5 separate regions of the Homo sapiens genome follow, and regions 2, 3, 4 and 5 are each linked to region 1. Evidence: fine-mapped expression QTL. A gene starts in region 1. Each other region holds a variant in brackets. All regions are shown on one strand. Distances are from middle to middle. Region 1 holds the start of STK39 (serine/threonine kinase 39). Region 2 overlaps STK39 (serine/threonine kinase 39). Region 3 has its middle 25 kb from the start of STK39. Region 4 overlaps STK39 (serine/threonine kinase 39). Region 5 overlaps STK39 (serine/threonine kinase 39).

The links. PIP is the estimated chance that this variant, and not a neighbour inherited with it, causes the effect. A credible set is the group of variants that fine-mapping cannot tell apart.
Region 2: its variant is the best candidate, but not a certain one, in a credible set for the expression of STK39 in whole blood (INTERVAL, PIP 0.75).
Region 3: its variant is the best candidate, but not a certain one, in a credible set for the expression of STK39 in Th2 cells (Schmiedel 2018, PIP 0.71).
Region 4: its variant is the best candidate, but not a certain one, in a credible set for the expression of STK39 in whole blood (TOPMed, PIP 0.80).
Region 5: its variant is the best candidate, but not a certain one, in a credible set for the expression of STK39 in T cells (TOPMed, PIP 0.54).

What each region holds. Positions count from the first base shown.
Region 1 is chr2:168,244,853-168,249,958 of GRCh38, reverse strand. STK39 (serine/threonine kinase 39) reads left to right here and starts at 2,364. Exons shown (of 18, transcript NM_013233.3): 1 at 2,364-2,731. The coding sequence starts at 2,524. LOC107985959 (a long non-coding RNA gene) reads right to left here and starts at 1,998. Exons shown (of 5, transcript XR_007087282.1): 1 at 1,891-1,998. RefSeq lists silencers at 2,159-2,408, 2,619-2,668, 3,029-3,078, 3,169-3,258, 3,279-3,478.
Region 2 is chr2:168,152,207-168,157,312 of GRCh38, reverse strand. All of the region lies in intron 5 of STK39 (serine/threonine kinase 39), which reads left to right. Among named protein-coding and RNA genes, the nearest start is that of STK39, 93 kb to the left of the region's middle. The variant T/C (reference allele first, on the strand shown) is at 2,405.
Region 3 is chr2:168,270,227-168,275,332 of GRCh38, reverse strand. No RefSeq gene overlaps it. Among named protein-coding and RNA genes, the nearest start is that of STK39, 25 kb to the right of the region's middle. The variant A/G (reference allele first, on the strand shown) is at 2,365.
Region 4 is chr2:168,224,472-168,229,577 of GRCh38, reverse strand. The region is part of intron 1 of STK39 (serine/threonine kinase 39); the gene reads left to right. Among named protein-coding and RNA genes, the nearest start is that of STK39, 21 kb to the left of the region's middle. The variant G/A (reference allele first, on the strand shown) is at 2,045.
Region 5 is chr2:168,183,223-168,188,328 of GRCh38, reverse strand. All of the region lies in intron 1 of STK39 (serine/threonine kinase 39), which reads left to right. Among named protein-coding and RNA genes, the nearest start is that of STK39, 62 kb to the left of the region's middle. The variant T/C (reference allele first, on the strand shown) is at 2,125.

The sequences.
Region 1 (5,106 bases):
ACCCAATCTCCTGCTAAAGGCTCTTAATACTATTCCACTGCCGATTAAGTGTCAACATATGAATTTTGGGGGGACAGAAACATTCAGACCATACCACAGGAGAACAGACCTCTACAACGAAGAGAACTATCTGACACAAAACAGCGCTGAGATTGAGAAACCCTGACACATCATGAGGCAGTTGGATACACTTTAAAAACATTTAGACCCTTATTTTTCCTTTCTATTTTTAACATCGCTCACTGAATGTACTCTTTATGCATTGAAATAAACCTTGTTTATATTTTAAAGGCACCCGCCTCCATCCCCATCTTTCAATTTAAATTTAGTAATGGATTTTCCGGGAAAAGTGCATATCAGTTGAATACTTCTAAAAAACATATATTTCTAAGTTTTAAGTACCATTTTACCCAATTGTTTACAGAAACATTAACTCTAATGCTTTTGTATAATTTTAAAATATTATTCATATTCTGTTCTTCATTTATAAAAATGATGCCAAAGAGCAATGCCAGGGGACATTCTTCTTTAAACCGATTTACTGTAGAAATGATGGATGTGCACTGAGTCATCCACTCAAGCAAGTCTTCATCCTGGTAGCCATTTGGAAAGCGGTTGACTAGAGACCGACATGTAGTCTGTGACTGGGGAACAGTTGCTTTTTGTGGGAGACTAATTGATCTGTGTTTGATTCAATTCTGTGATATTGATCTTGACGGCATCATGTTTTCCTACTAAGTCCCAAGAACATTCCTGGTCTTCATAATCCCACTTCATGGTTTGAAAGTCAAAAATAGAAATTCATATGACAAAATGGAAGTCATATTCATTTGATCATTTTTCTTTTCCTTTAAAAACAGTCCTTAAAAGTTCTTTGGGGTAGGGTGGAGGCAGCACTTGAAGAGGTCAGCAGCCATGGCTTGGTATAAAGAGCTCCCCTGTTCCTCAGAGGCCTAGAATTTGTTTATGAAGGGCTCTGTTTCTTGACAGACATGACAAGACACAGTTTTTGAAGTCCTCCGCATCAAAGAATGTACACTTAGTTCAGCATGAACTTCTGCTTCAAGACCAGAGCGAGGTAGCTGCTTTACTCCAACTTTTGTAATGCTCCAAGAGATTAAGTGCCCTCATCTTCAGTGGACATCAATGTTTTGATTAGACAACTAACTTTCCTAATAAATTTCTGGGCTTCTTCTGAATAATCTTTCAAAAATTTTAGTGAGATTTCTGTACATACACTCGGGAGACAAAATCATGATATCCCTAGAGTTTTTATTACATCCTCATTATTCTTACCTATTTCTTCAGCAGTCCTAGCAATGAGAACCAGACAAGATCATCTTGGCCAAACGACCAATACTATTGGTTTACTGCCCCGTTTCAGTTGGAGACAAGAACGGTGGATCCTGGTCACCTCCACGGAGGGAACACAGAGAACATTCACTGTTAAATATGACACCTATAATTAGGAAAACCTATGGTTTTACCATAGCAGTTTTACAGACGAGGTTATTTTTGGGGTGTTGAAAAAACAGCAATTAAAAGCTTCCAACACAGTTTATTCATGCCCCAATAAATTATTTCCCCACCAAGTATACGCTCTTAAAGAAACGCCTGATGTCTGGCCTCAGTGTCCTCACGGGCTAACGTGGCAATTATTAAGGGTGTAGAATTTGAGCAAACTTTCTAAACCTCTCCTGCATGTCTTATTCTAATTCCACAGCCCCTTAAATCGCCTCCCTGGGATCCAGGCGGCTTGGAAAAAATGAAGTCTGAACAGCCAGAGACCTAAGGAATCAAGTTTCATTTACTAAGAAAAACTAGAAGGACTGCGATTAGATTAGGCAAGGTGGGAAAGGGATACCGGCAAGTAAAGCGCCGGAAACTTACAACTTGGGTTATTTTCTAACTGGCGTCTTGCAAAGGGACACCATGTAGGTATCCCGCTCGTCAACTTGTAAATGAACTTCAGGTTCTCTTTGGTGGCAGGAGAATTCTGAATGTGAGAACCTGGCGGCCGTTCAACGACCCCGCCCTCGGGGTCCCCAGGGGGCGTCCTCCGGCAAGCCTGATCGTCTGGGGCCAAGGCGCAGGGCGAGCAGGGAGGGAGGAGGAGAACCAGGGCCGGTGGCCCCGAAAGCACACACAAAGCGGCCTGACTCCTTTGGTGGGAACTTCCCCGGCCGCCAGCGGAGCGGGAGCGGGAGGGGGCGGCGGAGAGGGGGGGCGGCGGTTCCCCTCGCCGAGGCGGAGAACAGCGCGCGCTAGGCTCTGGGCGCGCGGCGAGCGCAGCGGCCGCCGCCTCCTCCCTTCCCCGCCTCCGCCGGCGCTGCCTCCTCCCTCCGCCCAGCTCGGCCTCCCTTGCTCCCTCCCCTCCTAGCTGGCTTCGGCGGGGACGGCGGCGGCGGCGGCGGGCGGGGAGGGCGTGCGCCGGCCGAGAGGTGTCGGCGGCGAGGCAAAGGAAGTTTCAAGTGGAAGGTCGTCCGTCGGCCGGCGCGTCCTCCTGCTCTCCTCCGCAGCATCATGGCGGAGCCGAGCGGCTCGCCCGTGCACGTCCAGCTTCCCCAGCAGGCGGCCCCGGTGACAGCGGCGGCGGCGGCGGCCCCGGCGGCCGCGACAGCAGCGCCGGCCCCGGCAGCTCCCGCGGCCCCGGCCCCGGCCCCGGCCCCGGCGGCACAGGCTGTCGGCTGGCCCATCTGCAGGGACGCGTACGAGCTGCAGGAGGTTATCGGTCAGTGCGGCGGGCGCGGCGGGGCCGGCACAGGCCGGGCGCCGAGGCCGGGCGGGAGGGGGCGCGGGATGCTGGGCTAGCCTGCATGCACGCCCTGGAGGCAGAGAGGCCGGCTTCGGGGCCTACTGGCTTCAACAGTTTTTTTTTTTTTTTTTTTTTTTTTTTTAATTTTTAATGTATTTGTTCGTTCTATGAGCGTTGGTGCTGCAGGAGGCGGCGCGGCGGATGTGACTCGCACTGCAGACGAGCCGCATGCTGCAAACTTTTATCTCAGGGATCGCCGGGGCGGTGGAGCGGAGGACCAGGCGGCGCCGCCGCATCTTCCTCCCCCCGCGTGCCGGGACCGCAGCCCGTGGCCGGTGGCCACGCGGACAGGCAGCCGCGGGTGGGGTGTGGTTGCGGGGGCCCCGCCCTGGGTTTCCAGGGCCCCGGGGGCCGCGTCCTGGGGGACTCTGCGGGCGCAGCCGCTCCTCTGCCTCCCGTCGTGACCCTCTCGTCGTGGGTAACGGGGCCACGTAGAAGCCGCGGAGGCCCCAGTGCTTTTCTGAGGCCGGGGAGGATGCTGGCCTCTCTTCCTGACAGCCGCCACTCCACGCCCGCCTTGCAGCCCGGCTCTCCGCGCCACTCGGCGCGCCCGGGTACCCGCCTCCCTCCGTGCCAGGGTGCGCCGCCTGCCGCCCAGTCCGGCTCCCCGGGGAAAGCGGGTGCCCTGGCCTCCTGCCCTGCACCGGGCCGATGCTTCCCTCTGTTTCAGGCCGAGCTGCAAGAGTGAAATCCGAGGCTGCCGGTGATCTGCTCTCTGCCTTTCGTTGCCTTCTGGCCGGCTCACAAATATCACCTTATCTTACATTTTTAAATACCTGGCAGAGTCGCAGGGCTCGGCGTTACTTTTCCTTGGGCCAAGCACTTGAAGGGCCAGGAGATTTGTTTTGTCCCTTGACTTAGAACCTTCCCTATTGGATCATCCAGTTTGAGAGTCTTGTCACTTAGGGAAGCCTCCAGGTTAAGTGGGCCCTCAGCGTCTAACCTTACTGACGCAGGGATGGGATGTTGCCTTTCCAGAATCTTGGTATATAAGTACAGCGATGAAAAAGGAGTTCAGAATATTTATCTTAAGTATTTTTTCTAACTTTCACTTCAAAAAATTCTTCACCTCCTTTTAAAAAAATTAAAACAGATATAAAAATTTCACTAGGTGTTTAAATGAGCCTTTATCACCTGCTATTGGGGAATAAAACAGCATAGACGGAAATATATATATAAATATATACATAAAAATATGTGAGAAAATGTTGGGCAGGTCCGTAACCTAGGATATATACAAGCTTCAGATAACCTATAATAGGCATCTGTAGACAAAATTCTTTGAAAACCCAGATCTTTCATAATTTTTGACCAAAGACTCTAAAGGGATGAGTCTTCATGTCACTGCCTGAAATAGCTTCAGGGGCTTCTCAAAGCCTGGAATATTCCATGGAAACCTCTTTAACCTGGCATATAGGCCCTGTACCCTCAACCTGCCTGCCTCCTCCCATTGTCTACTCTTCAGTGATTGCTTCCTGAATACACCGCTGTCTTCCGCACATCTGGTCTTCCATTCTTTGCTGCCTTGCAGAGGCTCTTCCCTCCTGTGAGTGCCCATCTTTGTGTACTAAATCTCACTCCGCTTCCAAGGTGAGTGTGAATATTCCTTGAAAAGCCTTCTGCTTCTTTCAAGGCAAAATGCCGTGGTTTCTTCTGCCCCTCTTTTTACAGACCTCATAGCATGTAACCTCATAGTTGTTATTTGCGCAACAAGATCTGAAGGCCTGCTGTGTCCCAAGCATTGCCCCACTTGCTAGCAATATAGAAATTAACAAAAGTGATCCCTGCCCTAAGTTGTTAGGAGACATAGGGAAAGGATCCTATAGGATGTGATGAGTAAGTACTGGGAGAGCCCGAAGGAGGGAGTGACTGCCAGGAAAGAGAAGGAAGCAGAGTATTTCTTAGTAGAGGTCGTAGTTGAGCTGGGTTTTAAGTCTGAGTTTGTAAGGTGCTTAATTATTTCCACTGTTGCCTTCACTAACCAGCTGTGAACTCTGACAGGAAGAGGTGGGCCATAAAAGTTGAATAATGGTATCTGCCACATAATTCTCCATAGAGTCCATAGGATTGGGAGAAGTTATAATCAATTTATATACCTACTTGGTCAATTATTAGGGTTAAAATACAAACGTTGCCTTTTGAAAACAGTATTTTTTTGTGAACTAATAAAATCTTAGTTTAAGTTGAGTGGGATTAATGGCAGGACTTCTTTCTGTTTGCAGTCCCAGCAGTGTTAATTATGGTTGGTCAGTTTAGTGGAAAAAAAGAAATTTACCTGAGGAATTTGAGAA
Region 2 (5,106 bases), 93 kb after region 1:
TGCCTCACGTATGTGCATCCATTCAAATCAAGCTTATGCCCTGGGTTTTTCACTGTCCAAGGTACATTGGTAGAACTTTGGGTAGCATCTCTTATTTACTGGGAGGGAGATAATATCCTTATCAGCCTTGAATACATCTTCATTTTAAATCTGCATCTTGAACACTGAAAACCCCATGACTAAAAGTGCTAGGAAAACATGCAATGAAACTTAACTTGCTTCTGTCACTTAGGCGTTATCCATTAAGGAGCTAGAGGAAGATGGGCAAGGTGGTTGAGTTTTTACACCCATAGCTGCTAGGTTCTTTCATTTTCCTTCTGTGGCCTTTGGCCCTCATAAAGTGCACTTTGATGGGGAGGGTAGGGGTTTAAGAGTTATTTTTTGTGTTGTAGGGAAGAGAGGCTGCTGCTTTGAGCAAGGCACCCGAGCAGCGCTGGAGTCAGCTTCTGATTAGTGTGGGAAAGCGCTGAAAGCCCCGGAGGCATCCAATCAGGAAATGATGTCATCACATTTATGAGCACCTTGGCCCAGAGCATGGGCTCTGACACCAGACAGCCATAGTTCAGTCCTGGCATTGCTCCTTCTAGCTGTGTAACCAAGTTATAGCTTTAGCTTCTCTGTGCCTCATTTTGCACGTTTGTGTAATGAGAATATACTGCGGCATTAAAGGAGTTAAAACACATTTTATTTTAGAATTTGCTAACTCATTGCTTTCGTATTGAAATTGGGATGGTGTCCTCTAATTACTTAGGGTGTGGTAAGCTCACGGTGGCTAGGGAGGTGCGAGGCCTTAGGCACTCCATCTGACCTCCTGCCGTGTTATTTTGCTCTTTTCTTTTTCCCATCAGTTTCCTCAATATCACCAGAGTGAAGAATCTGCAGTGTAGATCTGACTGTATCTTCCTCTTGCATAAAGTTTATAAGCATTGTTGATGGAATAAAGCATTGTTGATGGAATAAAGCTCCAGCTTCCTACTAATGGCAGATGAGGGACCTGCCTGTTTTTCTGGTCATGTCTGCAAGTGCTTTCTGCTGTGACTTGAAATGCTTATAGCTTCTTGTTCAGGGTTCCCCTTTCTTACCTGAGTAACTTCTTTTCATGACTTATTCATGAAGAATTCTTTCCTTGAGAAACCTTTCATGATCATTTCCTCCACCATGCCCACCTGCACCAGGTTAAGCCCCTCACCCTGGTGGTTTGCAAGGGTTCTGGCCATACTCTAGCTAGCCTATGACACAGCACTGACATTGGGCCTTTACTTTCCCATCTTCCCTTCAGACTGGATACTTCCCAGAGGGAGAAACTGTGTTGTTCATCGCAGCATTCCCAGATGGTACCTGATACATGGCAGGTGTTCCTGAACTTTGGGTCAGTGCACTCTGCCTAGAGGCACGGGAGACACCCTGTCTCAGCAGCAGGTTATGCAAGTACATGTGCCTGTTGGTGGCAAAGAGAACAGATGTAAGGCATAGCTGAGAGTTGAAATGAGTAAGAATATATCAGCTTAGCAGGGAGGGAGGCAGAAATATTTTAAATATTTAGGTATGTATACTACTGCATATTTTAAAGGCTGAAAATAGTTTTTAATGGGGAATATCACTTCTGATTTTGGACAAGCACTGCCCTAGCCTGCAAGCCATGAGGCTAAAGTTAAGGAAGAGTGAAGCAGAGAACATGAATGAAGAGGCAACTGGTTATACTCAGAAAATAGAATACACATGAAAATTAAAATCTGTTGGGGTGGGGGGGGTGCAAGTGCTTTATAGTGAACCGAAATATTTGTTTTGAGTTTCAGGAACAGTTTATAACTATGTGAATTATGGTTTGATGAATTACGACAAAATTCTCATACATGAATTTTTTTTTGGCATAAGTGAATAAGGACAGTAAATTAATGTGGCTCCCTGATTTTTGGTATCTCGACAAATGGTAACATTTGATAAGAGCTCTAGAATGAACCAAGAATGTACTCAGTTCTGGAAACTGAGTTTTTCATTCCAGCTGCACACCATCAGTGAGAAATACTTGGGGAGATTGTAAGCAGCTTCTCATGCTTTAACAGCTGCTAGCAGTTGTTTGAGCAACAGCTTAAGGAAATGTTACTGGGTGAACCCGGTGGAGGAGAACCACTTTGCTCTACTCTCCTGCTGGAATTTTTGCTCAGCTCTGCACGTTTAGCTGCAGGGGGGACAGGGTTGAGCTTCACAGAAGAGTGTCTAGGGGGGCATGAGGCAGATGGGACTCAGTCTCCCTCCTTCCCTCTCTTTTTTCCTTCCTGTAAGGGCCTGCAATTCATTATTAAATTAAATTTCACATATTACCAAATACTATGGAGGTCTGCCTAAAATAAGAGTTTTTAGACTTGAAAGCAGAGCAATTCGGTCCTTTGCTTATTTTTTCGTT[T/C]ATTTTTCTTTTTCCCAGAACCTCCATTTGTATAGCCTGCTCCTTCTGTGGGAGAAAAGGTAAACATTAGATGTTTGGTTTCAGTGTATCCTCAGTGGTTAGTTGACAGGTATTTATTGAGCATTTGCTATGTTCTAGGCACAGTCCTCTCAGCTGACACAGTGGTAAGCAATGGAGACATTGTGTCTACTGTCATGGAGTTTAGGTGACACATTAAACAGTCAACTATATAAATTTAAAAAATGTGTTAAGTGTGAAGGGAATGCCTATACCTGGGTAACTTAAGTTATCCACATTAGGACTAGTTGAATAGGTTGTAATGGGGATAAATTTTAAATATGTATTGTAAATAGGTTTTGGTCAATAACATCTTATAAGTTACTGCATGTATCATATGTTGATTACAGATTTTTAGGACATTTAAATAGTGTTAACCTGTGTTTACATTCTGTGGAATATGATTTAACACTTGATTGTATGTAGTACACTTGAGGACACAGTAGCCAGTCTAGGCCCCCAGTGGTCATTAACTTACTGTCCTTACCCTTTGCTGGCCATAGTTTGTATCACCTGTAAAATGATGTGCTTAGGCTCTCAAATTTCCTTGCAACTCTAACAAGTGGATAACTTTAATAGAGAACTCTATGACCCCTGTGCTCCTGAACTGTGCTTCTCACAGTCTTTCCCAGTTCTTTTAGTGGGAGAACCATTCTTCTATTGAATGGGCCAGAAATCTTGATATTCCTCGATCCTTGTCGTTCTCTTGGACCCTACATCCTATCCAATATGTTAGTAAATCCTATGGTTGACCATATTTCATCAGCTCCCTGCTGTCATCCTGGTCCACAGACCCATCAGTTCTTGTTTGGATTATTATGGTGGTCTCCTAAAAGGACCTCTTCTTCTGCCTTTGCCCCTCTGTGGTCTGTTCTCTACACGGCATCTGGATTAATGCTGTTAAACTAAGTTGACTTGTATTATGCCTTTCCTCAAAACCCTCCAACCCCTTGCCATTTCAGAGTGAAAGTCAAAATCCTTAAGGTGGCTCGTGAGGCCTTACAAGATCTGGCCCCTCATTATGTCATTGATTTCAACTCTTACATCTTCCTCTTCAGTCAAATCGGCCTCCTTACCTTGCATGCTGCTGCCCCGGGATCTTTGCATGGGCCGTTCCTTCTTTCTGGAATACTCTTTTCCTTACCTCCTTCAGATCTTGGCTCAAGTGTCACATCAGTGAGACTTCCAGGCCTCATATTGTAACCCCCCCCCACCCCATATTTTGTATTCCCTGCCCTGCTCTGTTTTCTTTATTGTACACATCAGCGTACTCTCTATCAGTGGCTCTCTCAAGGTGTGCTCCTAGAGCAGCAGCAGCAGCATAAACTTGATAAAAATGCAAACTCTTGTGTTCTCCTACCCTAGACCTTCTGAATCGGAAACTCTAGAGGTAGGGCCCAGCAATCTGTGTTTTAAGAAGCCCTCTAAGGGTTCTGAAGCAGGCTGAAGTCTGAGAACTACTACTATGTATTATATTTTGTAATTTTGCTTTTATCTGTATTTACCTCTCCCCCTTACTCCTGCCCCAACTTAAAAGTCAGCTCCGTGAGAGCAGGGGTTTCTGGTCTACAGTCCCAGTACTTAGAACTGGAAGTGGCACTTAGTAAGATCTTGGCAAATAGTTGTCAAATGAATTAATAAACATCTGACTATATAGTAAATTTAGATTAAAAGAATATTGAGCAATAGTTCAGTGACTCTTTAATGTTAGGAGTTTTCAGTGTGAGGTTTTCTTTTATCACAGATTTGGAAATCTGCAGATTCTTTGAAGATTCAACTAATCCTTCTGAAAACTTTGTAAAACAATGGTGTGCATTGTTTCCTTAAATACTTGTAGCAACTGGAGTTGTGTTATTTTAATCTTCTCCCATAGGGATCATATTTTTAACATGTACAGATGGGCTATTGTGGCTTAATGGAAGCTTCTGATAGTAGTGCTGGTTGAGTGAAGATTTGTTTAAAAAAGATCACCTGCAGGTATATGAATATTGCATTGGAAATTTAGACTTATTAATATTTGATCTAAGTTGTTCATGCCTGTCTCTGCGGATATGGCCGGCCAGGAGCCCTCGCTGACTTTAGAAGCTTGCCTTTGGCTTGGGAAACAATAATACCTGTATAATATACTTACCTGGTGCTCTCCTTACAGCAACTCTGTCAGTTCAGCACAATAGTTCCTTCAGATGAAGCATCTGAGGACTGCTGAGCAATTGTGGACTTGTTTAAGGTCATTCTGAAAGTCATAAAAGCACTTCACTCTCAAATCTCCTCAGACTTCACTTTTGCTTCTTGCCATTAGGTTTCACCCCTACCCCACCAATATACTTCTTAACTCTATGCCTTTTGACGGTTGAGGAGCGCCGGGGCTCAGTTCCTTCCGTTGTAAAGTAAGGAAGATTGACAAGATGTTCTCCAAGGACCTATCTTGCATCAAAATGTTCAAATAACCCTTCATTAGCTGCAGTCACTTAAAGACATTCTCAGTACTGTTTTGAAGAATTCAAATCAGAGGATTGTCTTGGGTGTAGAGAGGAGAGTAAGCCAAGCCTCTGTCCTGTGGCTGCTTTTACCAGAGCATCTTTAAAAATAGTCCTCCCACCCCACATTGGGGATCCAGGGAAGAATGGATATGTGGTGTGGGAATT
Region 3 (5,106 bases), 25 kb before region 1:
GTCTAAAATATGTGGGGCAGGCCAGCAGGCTGAGAATTCAGGCAGGAGTTAATGCTACAGTGTTGGGGAAGAAGTCATCCTTTTTCTGAAAACCTTAGTGTTTGCTGTTAAGGCCTTCAACAGATTAGATGAGACCCATCCATATTTTTAAGGGTAATCTTTGCTTAAAGTCAACCGATTGTAAATATTAACCGTAATATCTTAATAGCATACCTAGATTTGATTAAATAACTGGATACTATAGCCTAGCCAAGTGACATATAAAACTATCACACTCGCCAATCTTCATTTTTAAGAGTTTACATAAAGATATACTTTCACATATAAAATTTTGTATTTACACACACATATGGAAAATCTTTTGCAGCATTTTTTATGATAACAAAAGACTAGGAACAATCTAAGTGCAGGGAAACAGAGCTGGTTAAATACTGTGTATACTGAGATGAAATAATAACTGAAATATTGTTAGGTTAAAAAACAAGATACGGTTTTGTGTGAAAATATCTTTAAAAGGAATTCATACTTGTATGTATTTAATATGCATAGACTATCTCTAGAAGTATATACAAAAACCGGGTGGCAAAGTAATGGCTAGGATAGAGACTCACCTTTTACTTGTATAGTCTTTGCACCTTTCAAATTTTGAGCTATATATAAATGACTATGTTAAACATTCCCAATATTCATTAATTAAAAAGTAGACTGGCTATGCATCTCCACAATGGCTAAAATTAAAAAGACTGACAGTGCTAAATGCTGGCTAAGATGTGGAGTAACCATAATTCTCATGTACTCTTGGTGGGACTATAAAATTGTACAACCATTTTAAAAAGTCTTGGCAATTCACTGCAAAACTTAACATATACCTACCCAAGAGCCTAATAATTTTACTCCTAGGTGTTTACCTAAGAAAAATGAAAGCATATGTGAACAAAAAAGACAATTGTACCAGAACATTCATAACAGCTTTATTTGCAATAGCCAAAAACTAGAAACAGCCCAGGTGTTCATCAGCAAAAGAATGGCTGAACCTACTGTGGTATATTCATAGAATGGAATACTACTTGGTAAAAAAATGAAAGAAACTGCTCCTAGATGCAACAGTATGGATAAATTTCAAAAACATTATGCTGAGTGAAAGATGTTTTTAACAAAAGACTACATATAATTCCATTTTCATAAACTTCTAGAACAGGTAAAATCCATGATGGAGAAAACTAGAAGAGTGGTTGCCTCTGAAGGGCAAGGTAAGTGTTGACTGAGAAGGGAAGGAAGGCATTTTCTGGGGTTCATAGTAATGTTTTATAACTTAATAGAGGTTCGGGTTTACATGTTAAAAACTTATAGAATGATACACGTAAGATTTGGGTATTTCATTGTAAATTTCACCTTAAAAATCTTAAATATTGAACTCTAATTAATTATATGCATGCACAGTTAGTTTTTTTTTTTTGCCTATCAGGGCAGGAAAGTTGGTTTGTTTTCAATGTAAATATATAGTAGTGGCTAGGACTCAGTGAAATGGGCACTGTTATACACTTATTAATGGGAATGTTAATGTGCAAATATGTTTATTATGTCATTATTCATAATATCAATTAATTGGAATTGATTTTTTAAATTGACAATATTTTAAAGTTAATGTAAGATGGAATACGAAGCAAACATTTTTAAAATTGTAGAACATCAATTGCAAGGAAACATGTTCAGGGATGTTTTAAAATAAAAATTTTATTTAAAAAGTGAATACATCAAATTGCACGGGCGCAGTGACTCACACCTGCAATCCCAGCACTTTGGGAGGCCATGGTGGCAGATAGATCACTTGAGGCCAGGAGTTTGAGACCAGCCTGGTCAACATGCTGAAACCCTGTCTCTACTAAAAAATTTTTAAAAATTAGCCAGGTGCAGTGGCACACGCCTGGAATCCCAACTACTGGGGAGGCTGAGGTATGAGAATCGCTTCAGCCTGGGAGGCAGAGGTTGCAGTGAACGGAGATCATGCCACTGCACTCCAGCCTGGGTGACAGAGTAAGACTCTGTCTCAAAAAAAAAAAAGAAAAGAAAAGAGGTCGGGTGCGATGGCTCACGCCTATAATCCCAGCACTTTGGGAGGCTGAGGTGGGCGGATCACGAGGTCAGGAGATGGAGACCATCCTGGCTAACGCGGTGAAACCCTGTCTCTACTAAAAAATACAAAAAATTAGCCGGGCGTGGTGGCGGGCACCTGTAGTCCCATCTACTCGGGAGGCTGAGACAGGAGAATGGCGTGAACTCGGGAGGCGGAGCTTGCAGTGAGCTGAGATCACACCACTGCACTCCAGCCTGGGCGACAAGGGGAGACTCAGTCTCAGAAAAAAA[A/G]AAAAGAAAAGAAATAATAATAAAAAAAGAAAGAAAGCAAATATATCAAATTATATAAAAATGTTTCTATATTTAGAAAATGTACTGGTAACAGATAAACTAAAATTTTATTAAGGTTATTTTACAGTAGTATACCATATACTATTTTTATTCCTCTTCCTGCATTTCAGTACTATTCAAATTTTCTATAATTAACATACATTAATTTTGAGTAGAAAATAGAGTGCTATTCTTGAAAGTAAATAACTCAAATTTTTGTAGGAGTCAGAAAATTTAAAGAAAGTTAACTGAGACTAGTAGTTAGCTGTATAACAAGTCACCCCAATACATAGTCTTTAAAATAATAACCATTTATTTAATTCATGATTCTGTGGGTCAGTAATGTGGGCTAGGCTGAGCTGGGTGGTTCTTCTGGTCTCAGCTGGGCTAATTTACATGACTGTGATCAGTTTCTGGGTTGACTAGGAATGGCTCGTTGTTGGCTAAAGTGTCTTGGCACTCTTCCATGTTGTTTCTGATCTCTAGCAGGCTGTGTACATTGTCACTCATCAAGTTTACGAAAGAGCTAGGGGACATGTGCAAGGCTCTTGAAGTTCAGGCTTGAAACTGGCAGGTATTGTTTCTGTAGCATTCCATTAGCCAAGGCAAGTCACAAGACTAGTCCAGATCCCAGTAGTAGGAAAAGAAACTCCACCTATTAATGGGAGGAGCTGAAACGTTACATCATGAAAAGACTTAGATATGGAGTATGGAAAAATTTGTGGCCATTTTTGCAAATCCATTACATCAAACACTAGTCCTTGTATTATATAGACAGATAATATACCAAATGTTAAGGAAATAAATTGTATGCAAAGATCCCTGCCTGGTATAAAAATAAAATTAGTGGTAAAATTATAAGTAATCAACCAATTTATATATAATTAATTACCAAGCTAATAATACAAATGTGTACTTTTTTTTTTTGAGACGGAGTCTTACTCTGTCTCCAGGTTAGAGGGCAGTGGTGGAATCTCGGCTCACTGCAACCTCCACCTCCCGGGTTCAAGCGATTCTCCTGCCTCAGCCTCCCAAGTAGCTGGGACTACAGGCATGTGCCACCACACCCAGCTAATTTTTTAAATTTTTAGTAAAGACAGGGCTTCACCATGTTGGCCAGGATGGTCTTGATCTCTTGACCTCGTGATCCGCCTGCCTCAGCCTCCCAAAGTGCTGGGATTACAGGCGTGAGCCACTGCGCCCAGCCCACAAATGTATACTTTTATAATAGTTATTCAACATGGCAAGACACAACTTACTATTTCATTTTTAGATCTGGAAAACCTTAGTCATGTGAAGTTTAATGGGCCTGATTCATTTTAGAAAAAAAAAAGAAATGTAGGAAGCAAATGTAAGAATTCAAAACCAAACAAAAACTTCAAGTATAGTCCGATTCATTGTCAGTCTCTAATATTTGTATTGAATTTCTGCCAGTTTATTTTTCCCTAGTCATGTGGAATTCTGATCATTAGAAAATTTAGCTGGCTGAATGAATTTACATGCACAATACATTTACACACATGGGCATGTATACACACACACCACACATCCCTACACAAATTCTCCCCTTCCTAAGAGTTAATATACTCTATGCACATCTTTAAACTCTAGCCAATTGAAAATGTTAGCATAGAAACGCTGTAGAATTCTAAACTAGTATCCTTTCTCGAGAATGTCTAGAAAACTATGTGGATACATACACGTAGAAAAATATGTATGTACAGGTTTATACATAGTTAAAATGATTGAAAAATCCAGAATTTTAAATCTAGAGTGTACCTTGGAGATCATATACAATCATAGTTTCATACAGATGTGATAACTGGGGTTGAGGAAATTAAGTGAGTGATTTAATAATTCTAAAATGGTAATTTCTGAATAAAAGGAAGAATTTCAAGAACAATCTATAGTAGATATGGTAGATTGGTGCTTCATATTTATCCCATCTTCCTGTACTGCGGAGGCTTGTAAGGAATATGGCCGTGCTTTGGTCAAGGATAGACCAAGGTAGGATGTTTACATCCTGCGTGACTTAGCGAGTTTAAAGTACAGGCATATAACTCCACTTGTTATCACAGCCATTTAGCCATAATGGGAAGGCTACCACTTGGCCTAAGCCACTATTGTCTGTAAAAGGCATAATTGCCCTCTCGATACTATGCAGGTGCACTGGTGCCCAGAGAGAGAGAGCCAAACCTGTCTATCTTTGCAGATAGACAGAGGGGAGCCAGGACACAGCTCAGGTCACTTGTGCCCAGAGAGAGAAAGAGTTAAGCTGCTGACCCTGAAGGCAAGGGAGAGCCAGCTGTGCAGCTACATGTGGGGGCCACCAGACTAAGTAGCCATGACAGGGCAGACAGTATGAGAAATCTGTTGATGAGAGCTGCTGCTGAATAAAATCATCTTTCACCTGCCCACGACCCCTGAGTGTTCTTTCTGCTCATCCACCCACTCTCTTGAACCTCAGCATGGGCTGGAACCTGACCCTGAACATGACATTTGGCATAATCATGAACCTGACAAGGCTGGAAAACTAGTAACTACACTTCCCAGACTCTCTTACAGCTAGGATTCTGGATGTGATTTAAGATTAACCAATTCATTTTCTCAACAGAAATCATATTGTTCACGCTGAATTGATCCACAAGGTCAAACAGTCCAGCTTATTATGCAAAATTTTTTTTATTTCTTTTTTTCTTCTTA
Region 4 (5,106 bases), 20 kb after region 1:
CACAGTTTTTCAAAAAGAATTGCTAGCCTATTAGGATAGAAATATTAGAAGCTTTGTAATAGTTACTGACAGAATTACAGAGTTTGCCTCTCTTCATTTTTTTTAGTTCTTGTTTTAGTTTTTTTTGTTTTGTTTAGAAATAATAGAAGGAAGGGAGATGTACTGTTATACCTTTTAATTTTTTTTTTTTTTTGAGTCAGAGTCTTGCTCTGTCACCCAGGCTGGAATGCAATGGTGCAATGTCAGCTTACTGCAACCTCCGCCTCCTGGGTTCAAGCAGTTCTCCTGCCTCAGCCTCTGGAGTAGCTGGGATTATAAGGCACCTGCCACTACACCTGGCTAATTTTTGTATTTTTAGTAGAGATGGGTTTCACCATATTGGCCAGGCTGATATCTTGGCCAGGCTGGTCTCAAACTCCTGACCTTGTGATCCACCCGCCTTGACCTCCCAAAGTGTTGATATTACAGGTGTGAGCCACCACGCCTGGCCTATTTTACCTTTTATTAAGTTGTAAAGTCTGGTAAAAGCCCTTATCATAAAATATTATATGCTTTTAGATGTGGGAAGAGGGCTAAATGTTATCTTTATAAAGTTAGAGATTTAAAGGCTAAGTGACCTGTTTATTACATTGGAAGACAGGTCTGGACGTGGGATTAGAATTGTGGAGTGTCCTTCCTGTGGCTGGCCTGAGTTCCTTTCTCATGTAAGGAAAAAGCACTGAGAAAAAGATGTTATCTGGATCTCTGAGGTTATTAAAAATTCCAAGCTTATTTAATTAATTTATTTATTTGAGATGGAGTTTCACTCTTGTCCAGGCTGGAGTGCAATGGCGCAATCTCGGCTCACTGCAACCTCTGCCTCCTGGTTCAAGTGATTCTCCTGCCTCAGCCTCCCAAGCAGCTGAGATTACAGGCATGTACCACCACACTAGGCTAATTTTGTATTTTTAATAGAGATGGGGTTTCACCATGTTGGTCAGGCTGGTCTCAAACCCCTGACCTCAGGTGATCTACCTGCCTCAGCCTCCCAAAGTGCTGGGATTACAGGTGTGAGCCGCTGATCCTGGCCCTATTTTATACTTCTCAAATATTATACAAACAATAATATAAGGTCATTGTAGAAAATTTATACAACACTGATGAGTGAAAAGGAGGAAAAGTAACCTCATCACCCAAGGCTAGACACTGTTTGAATTTTGATGTAGGAGTATATATTTACATGGCATAGAACTTTAAAAAAAAAAGTGTAAATTGATATTTTTAGAAATGTCTACCTTTTTTGTATTCCCAGTACTTTCACATTTAATTTGTTACGGCAAGTAAAATAAACTAGTCTTAGATTAATACTTGCTTGGCAAAAGTGATTTTATTTCTTGAGATTTTGGCATACACTGACAAGCATGCCTTATGATTACTGCAAAGTGTGTTAAGTGTATTTTTTCTCATACTTAAATGTTTTCAGAATCACGGAATACATCTAATACAATCTACTCTTAATGTCTGTGTTACGACTTAGATTTCTTAGGAGTATCTATTATACTTTGCCTTTTGTCTTCTAGATACTATTGGATCACCTTATTCTGATATTTGGCACTTCGTTGATTGGTAGAAAAATCGTTTTGGCCAGGCGCGGTGGCTCACGCCTGTAATCCCAGCACTTTGGGAGGCTGAGGAGGGCGGATCATTAGGTCAGGAGATCAAGACCATCCTGGCTAACACGGTGAAACCCCATCTCTACTAAAAATACAAAAAATTAGCCGAGAGTGGTGGTGGGTGCCTGTAGTCTCAGCTACTCGGGAGGCTGAGGCAGGAGAATGGCGTGAACCTGGGAGGTGGAGCTTGCAGTGAGCTGAGATTGTGCCACTGCACTGTGAGACTCCGTCTCAAAAAAATAAATAAATAAAAAAGAAAAATTGTTTTACAAAAAGTTCTGGCACAGAGAGAAGTTAAGAGTCAGTAACTTTCTTACTGTTTGTGGATGTGTTTGAACAGAGTAGTGACTTTTGGATTTCATAGTGACTTCGTATGAAACCTAGAGCTGGCA[G/A]CATGAGGATTTTCTAGATGAATTAAATATGTGGTATCTTTTTGTAGAACTAGCTGTGTGATTTCATGCGGATGTGGGAGAAATGAATAGGAATTTAATTTGATGATATGAATGTTGAATTTTGTGGTCCGCTAAATTTTAAGGATTTTATAGTATTTAGAACAAAAGGACAAAATAGCTTTTGGCATGACTAGTCTTTATTTTAAATGTTTTTTAAGTTACAAATGTATAATATTTATGAATCAAGTAGATGAAAATAACTCCCAACTTTCATTGCCCAGAGATGGCCTGTATGGCCAGTTTGGTGTGTATCCTTGCAGATGTTTTTCTATGTATACATCTACATAAAGATTTTTCCAAAATGTAATAATTTTACATGTAATGTGGAAACTATACGTATTGTTCTGCAATCTGTAAATTTTACTTCTTCAAAGTAATATATATATATTACTTGGGTATTTTACTTCTGTATATTTTCTGTAAATATTTTTAGTAAAGTATACACATTATAAATATTCACAGCTGTCATTCCAGGCTATTTCTCAGAGATCCACCTCCTTTAAAAATGTGTATTCTGGATCCATTGCTATTCTATGAGTGCAGCTGAATTTACTTAACTAATTCCTTTATTGATGAACTTATTGATTGTTTCCAAGTTTTTATTATTTCTGTGGGATAGATATCCAGAATTTCAGATGGCCAGGGCCAGTGGTATTGCATTTATACTTTTGATAGATACTGTGACAATTTCTTCCAGTTGTACTAATTAAATGCTAGCTTATTTGCTCCCATTACTGACCTTAAAGGTAAGAGGGAGTTATAGTGAGAAGGCATCTTGCCTTATTCCCGATTTGACCCAGACCTAAAATATCTAAGGTCAGGAGAAAATGGTGGGTGGGGTGAGGTGGGGTGGGATGGTTGGGTAATTGTGGATTGGAAAAGAAAAAATTATTGCCTCAGTTTAGGGAATGAAAGTTGCATCACTTATGGTCTAAAAAATGAAGTGTGATGAAGTTTATTTGTATGAGCAAATTTATGGAAAGATTTTTTTGAGTTGGTGAGCAGTCTGGATTATAGAATATAACAAAATTGGTTAATCTGCCCTTTAGGTTGTAAGGAACAGGGACTCACTAAAATTACCCAAATAATGGGGCATTCTTTATAAAGGTAGATGTGGGAATAGGGGGACAGGAATCTCATCCATAATCCTGGGTTTTCTAGCATCCTGGAAAAGTTGAGGGTCTCGGTCTTGGGAATTGCAGTGAAATGTCTGCATATGGACTGGGAAGTGGATAAGACCTCAGCAGCAGGAAACTTTGGATCCTCACTATTCTGGATCCTCTAACCTTAGTGTAACCGGCCAATCAGCATGTGTTTGCTTTGCTCATGCCCACCTGCTTCTCTGGCTGTTTTTACCTGGCTTTCTTACCTACTATCTGTGCATGTCTTCTCTGTCATGTTGTTTCTACTTAGTCAGAATTTTGGCTCACTCATAGCTCCTTATGGCCCATCCAGCTTCTCTCTTCTTTCCCTGTTAGCCGCAACTATGGCTGCTAATTGCTGGATTCTGTCTGTATTTCCCAATCTTAATCCCAAAGATTGAGAATCTAGTTTTTAGTGAGTCCCTTCATAGAACACCTGACTGCCCTAAACTCAGACACCCTCCTTGGAGAAGGGTGTAGCATCGGAAGTTCCTGCCTGGGAAGGAATCACAAGTGTGGCAGGCACCACTAGTGAGTGTTTTATGTAATACTGCTCTTAGGTAAGTAACTGGTCACGAGACAGAGACGACATGTCACCCTAATCAGCAAAATGTAATCCTGATCTAATGTACTTTCTTTGTTAAAATATATACTTACAATGTGTTTAAAGAGCAGTTTATTGTTTTGAGTCAATAAATAACTTTCTTCCCTAGGAAGAACCTCCCTTTTCCCTTATGGATTGTAAATTGGGAAATCTTATGCCCAGTTTCAGTTATAAATTGTCTTAAATTCTGAAATAATGATACCCGAATCCTGAGATATGGTCTGGTCTTGCCTTTTCTGCTGGATTTAAAGTACTATGAAGTAGTTCATCCTGTTTATGTAATGGTGATAAAATTCTGAAAAATATACCTGGAACCTGATACTCTTTGAGGAACTAACTTTCCTATGTCAATAGTTTTATCAGCAGTATCTTCTCCATGGATATTGAGAAGAGAATCTGATCCTCCCAAATTTTATGATGTATTTGATAGTTTTATCAGCAGTATCTTCTCCATGGATATTGAGAAGAGAATCTGATCCTCCCAAATTTTATGATGTATTTGGTGGTCCAGTGTTTCAGAGATGCAAGTTTGTTAATATCCCCTGGAAGATTTCTCAAGGTTGCTTTGTTTTCCTCTTCAGGGTCACTATTAAGTATCCCTTTTTGCCCTGTTCTCTTCCTCCTGAACCCCATTCTGCTTCACTTTCAAAACGATGGCTAGAGGGTTGGATATGTCAGTGATCATGAACTGCTGAGTCCTAAACTTTGGTGTCTGTGTCCCTCAGAACCTCAAAGGGCAGTTTCCCTGTGACTTTTTAAAATGAGAACCATGTTCATGAAGTGCTGTCTTAGTTTCAGATCACTTGAAATGTAATCTGATTTGAGAGACAGTGTTTAAGCTCCTGTTTACCAAAAGGCTGTTTTGATTATCATTTTGCAGGAATTGTTGCTGGGTAAAAGACAAATGAACAACGTACTCAGAAGAGATGACCAAATGGTCTGATTTCATGTTGGAAAGTTTCTTCTGGTGGTCTTGAATCTGCGTTTTAATCTCCTTAAAAATGCCTTTTTAGCACATAAGCAAAATTAAACATTATTGTTTTATTAAAAACTATGCAGTGCTCCTTATTAGTTAGGAGAAAAATCTCTTAAATCCTTTTTGTTAAGGACATGTGTAATTTAAGGCTTTCATTTTGACAGCCTGGTTTCAGCTGACAGGTATGTTAATCTCTATTTGATTGCTTTGGTGAGGAGTTGAAAATCACCTAATGCCTGGCTTAGTGTGCATTTGTAAATGCGCTTTCTTTTGGTTTTCA
Region 5 (5,106 bases), 62 kb after region 1:
ACAGTTGGCTGAAGCAGAGTGGCACTTGTACTCCTGTAGAGCTCACATGTGTGTCCATTCATCCAAGTCCTCTCCTGGCCAGCTTCTGGTCCTCATGTGACTGACTGGCCTGTGGGCTTTGAGGTTGGACACATGATATAAATAGAGCTCAAAGAGTAAGCTGGGGAAAGGCAGGATTAGAATAAATCAGCTGAACCAAAGCCATTTGTTTTGTTTACTATCCATCACCAGCTAGCACCTCTAAAAAGAAAGCCTGAGCCCACTCTTGACTCTGTTCACTGGCAAAGGACAGCTGAGCATACTTAAGGAGTTCTTGCACGTGCTAAGAGATGGTCAAACTCTTATTAAAGTTCCAACTTTGTGCTTCTCATTTAAATATAATATGGTGATTAGAACTTCCTTCCAGGGGCCATAACTAATGTTACAGGCTAATGTGATGCCTTGAAAAAAATCTTGCCATTTATGGGAAGGGGTTACTGGACAATTGACGTCTTAACTTTAACGTAAAGTTCTTATGGACTAATTTTTTTAAAAAAAGTACTAGATGTTTATTGCTACATTGTTCATATGGGGATGAAAACTAGAAATAAAGGGGATACTCATCAACAGAAGGAGGGCTGAATAAATTATGGTACATTAATACTATGAAATATTACGTGGTATTAAAATGACAGATTGACAGGACACCAGTTGACCTGGGGGGATTTCCCTAAGGAGCAACGCTAGCTAAGATTTAATTAGTGCTTACTATGTGCTAGGCACAGTTTCAAAGACTTTTTTTGTGTTAACTCATTTAATCCTCACAACCACTCTATGAGTGAAGTAGCATTATTGCCGTCTTACCAATGAGGAAACTGAGGCATGAAGAAGTTAGGCAAGTCATCCAAGCATAAGCAGTTAGTATGTGGCAGGTCTGGGATATGAACCCATGCAATCTGGATTGACATAGATATTTTAAAATAACTTTTTTTTTTTTTTGAGATGGAGTCTCACTCTGTCACCCAGGCTGGAGTGCAGTGGCATGATCTCAGCTCACTGCAGCCTCTACCTTCCGGGTTCAAGTGATTCTCCCACCTCACCCTCCTGAGTAGCTGGGATTACAGGTATGCACCACCATGCCTGGCTAATTTTTGTATTTTTAGTAGAGACGGGGTTTCACCATGCTGGTCAGGCTGGTCTCAAATTCCTGACCTTGTGATCCACCTGCCTTGGCCTCCCAAAGTGCTGGGATTACAGGCGTGAGCCACCATGCCCGGCCTTAAAATAACTTTTTAAGGTTAGATATCAAAGTGCATTATACATGACAATCTTTGCTATGGAATATTAATTCACAGCTGTTTCTGAATTGGATTGTCTCTTATATTTTAAACTCTTATGCTCATCATGCTGTATCAGACTTTAGAAATCATTTAGTTCTTTGGTTTCCAAATTTAGCTCTCCTAGCCTCTCTTTTAAACCAGTCTAATCTTCCTGGTGCTAAGCAAAATGAAACTCAGTTCTGACCCTGAGCCACTTTGCCCTCTTTTCCCTTGGGTGCCATATAAACAGTAGATATAGTTTACCTCCTTTATGTCACAGATGGAGAAATGAGTCCCAGAGAGAGAGCCTAACATTTATTGAGTTGATGTTTTCCAGGGATGTGAAATATATTATGTTATGAAGCCTTAAAGGTGTATTTTATTATGCCCATTAAGGAAGCTGAAGTCTAGATAGCAGTTAGGTCGAAAGTCACAGAGGGAATCAATACCACGTTTGGATAGAATCCCTGTCTAACCTTCTTTTCAAGGCTCCTACTAACCTAAGATGGGAACTACAATGAGCTACCAGAGGCCTTTCAGTTGAATCTTGCCATTTGCTGTTGACTTAATCAGGAAGCTTCTAAGAACTTCTAATTAGTATGGCATTCTCTGCCATAGGTGTTAGTGGAAGAATGACTTTGAACAGACATTTCAAGGCTTTTGTATTAGTCTGCTTGGGCTGTTGTAACAAAATACCATATACTGAGTGGCTTAAACAACAGAAATGTATTTCTCACAGTTCTGGAGTCTAGGAAGTCCAGATCAATGTGCTGACCACTTCAGTTTCTGGTGGGCTCTCTTGCTGGCTTGTAAACAGGCACCTTCT[T/C]GCTGTGTCCTCATAGGACAGAGAGGGAAAGTAAGCTCTCTATTGTCTCTTTTTGTAAGGATACTAATCCTATTGGACCAGGGCTCTGTCCTGATGACCTCATTTAACCTTTAATTACCTCCATAAAGGTGGTAATTATCTGTTAACTGTATCTCTAAATATAGTCACATTGGGGATTAGGGCTTCAACAAAGACATTTTAGGGGAACACAGACATTCAGTCCACAACAGCATTTTAGTCATCCCTGTTAACTTCTGCAGAGGAAGTGATCCTATAGAAGGATTTATTCCACTTGAAGCAGGAATGGTCACCTTTGGCACTTTATTATCTAGTGAACTGCCTGCTACATGGCAGGGATTTAATTACTGTTTGTTGATGAATTAATATAAGCAAATATCTTTTTGCTGCTTTTTTGCACTAAATGCACTAAATGCAAAGAGGAAGTTATTGTGTGAGTCATGGGAGTAGGGACTTTGAACATACTGTTGAAACTGCATTTGACAATAGTAGTGATTTTTGCAAAATAAACACTGTAGTTTTTCATGTTAATTTCACATAGACCTTAGTGAAATGCAAAGTTAGAATACTAAATTATATTTCCATGAAATATTTCTTTGGATAACTGAAAGTATAAAATGCAGGTATGCAGTGTTCTGGTTATTTACCTTAATACCAGCAGCAGTACAGAGGGGAAAATGAGAAGAGGTGTCAACTAAAGGAAAAATCTGCATCATGGTAATGAACGTGAGCAATCTCTTACCTCTGATTGCCATTGACATAATCACTATCTAAAACTTCCAAGTAGCTGTTCTTAGTCGGGAATTACTTAGCAAAAGTGAATTGAGATAGAGTGACTTAAAAGAGTGAACTGAAAAGATTTAAAGCCGTGCCCACTTAACTTGTGCATATGTGCATACAGGCCATAATCCTATTGAATGATTTATTGCACTTGAAATAGGAGTCAGGAATAAAATGAGAAATTCATAAAATGTTAAGAACTCTTATTCCAAAAGGGGTGCATGATACTTCATTGAAAATATGCTACTAATGTTAATGAGTCATGTGTCAGTATCATATATTGTTCAAAATAAATACAAGGTGCTGTTCAGCATAGTAATTGCTCTTATTTTATTTCATGTTGCTAACACTTGTCCAGTTCCTGTATTTACAAGCCCCACATTTTTTAGCTTCCTCTTAAACTAATCAGCAAAGTGCATAAAAACCCTTAAAGCAAGACAGTGTTGGTATTATTTCTAAATGTCCTTTAGAATTATGCAGTTAGGTCACCTCCTTTCCTTTCAAAGCATGGATTTACTCTAATCCTGGGAATCCTAATCTAGTACTAGCAGACTCCAAACTTTTGATCATCACTTACAGTAAAACATGTCATACTAAAGCTTGGGCGTAAGTGAAACAAAAGTTTCATAAAGCAGTTTTTACCCTTATTACATTCTGATGCTTCCCTTAAACAATGCTGGCCTCCACCCAGTTAGTTGATTTTGTGACCAGTGGATCCTCACTGGCAATTTGAAAAAACACCAACCTGGTGCACAGAATGGTAGATAAGGAATAAGTATGCCTAGGGTCCTAATCCTGTGCTTTCCAATTGCTGCAGGAAACACATCCCTATCCTTCACAGGACCCTGTTTTCTCATTCATAAAGTGAGGGGGTGGGTTGGACTTGATGCTCTCTAAGGTGCCTTTCCACCTTTAACTTTGTTCTTGGTCTCTTCTATAGTTGAAGGGAAATCTTTGGATTTAGAGTAGAATCTCCCAAACTGTTTAATGAATGGTTAAATCCATCCATGTTGTGACAATGATCTCAGGTCACAAAGCTTCATAATTCTGTCTAGAGATGAGAAGTAGCCAGTCGTTCCTTAGTTAGCTGTAGTTGTAAAGCAGTAACAATTCTCTAGCTGTAAAGCTTTAATAAAAGATTTTTCTCACCACCTACCCCTCCATGTTTTTAGAATTCTTATTTTTTGTTCCTTGGAGGTTAGGAGACTTTTACTGTCAAGGACTTAACTATGAGAGGTATCTCTGTATTACATACGCTTGTTTTGTCCTTTCTGGGAATTAATTTATTCTTTCCTGTTTTTGAAACTCCTTGATTTGTGAATGTTCTGGAATGTAGATTAAGGATGGAGAAGCTGAGCTGGGGGGAGATTTATTGCAGGTAGAGCTGAGGATGGTTTCCCACCAGCAGCTAAAGATGTTAGTTGATTTCTCTGCTGGGTACCAGGCCCAGTGCTAACCAGCTGCATAGCACTTTCTCTGTGGCTCCCTTCAGTGATAGTGTCTTGTTCCGGAGACTGGAAAATATACTTTGCTATCAGCAGACTTTTTGTATTGTTTGGCTCTGCCATCTGGACCATTCTGGATTGAACCCAGTGGGCTGTGATCTGCAGGGCCAGTGAAGCCAAACTAGTGGGACCTGGAGTAGCAGCCAATGGGGTAGCAGCTGATGGATGAGCAGTGAGATTAGGGAGAGGAAGGCCCTTTGAAGCAACCTGTCCATAGCACTCTCTTCCCAAACAGCTCTAGCAAATGAGGCTCATGCAGACCCTGGTCTGGGTTGTTTGTCTTCTGTTGAACCATATAGGATGGAAGAAAGTTTTTTCCTAGCAAGGCCAAAACAAGTGAGGAAGGGAAGCATGTGCTCTGGCTTGTGGGAAGTAGAACAAAAGCACACATCTCGGAGTCTGGCAGGCGTGATGCTGATACTGGCTCAGGTACTTATTAGCTCTATGTGACCTTGGGCAAGTTTTCTGAGTCCCGGTTTTCTCCCATGTAAAATGAGGCTAGTAATAAAAATGTACAGGCTCATAAGGAGTCAAGTGTCTACTGTGCAGTGGGTGGTCAGTATGTGTGTGTGGATTTTCTTTCCCAGTGAACACAAATTGGGCTTCCCTGGAATGGTAGTCTTTAAGTTGGAGACCTGGGTTTGGAGGAGTAGGGTGATCTGCTGGGGTTGCCAAGTCG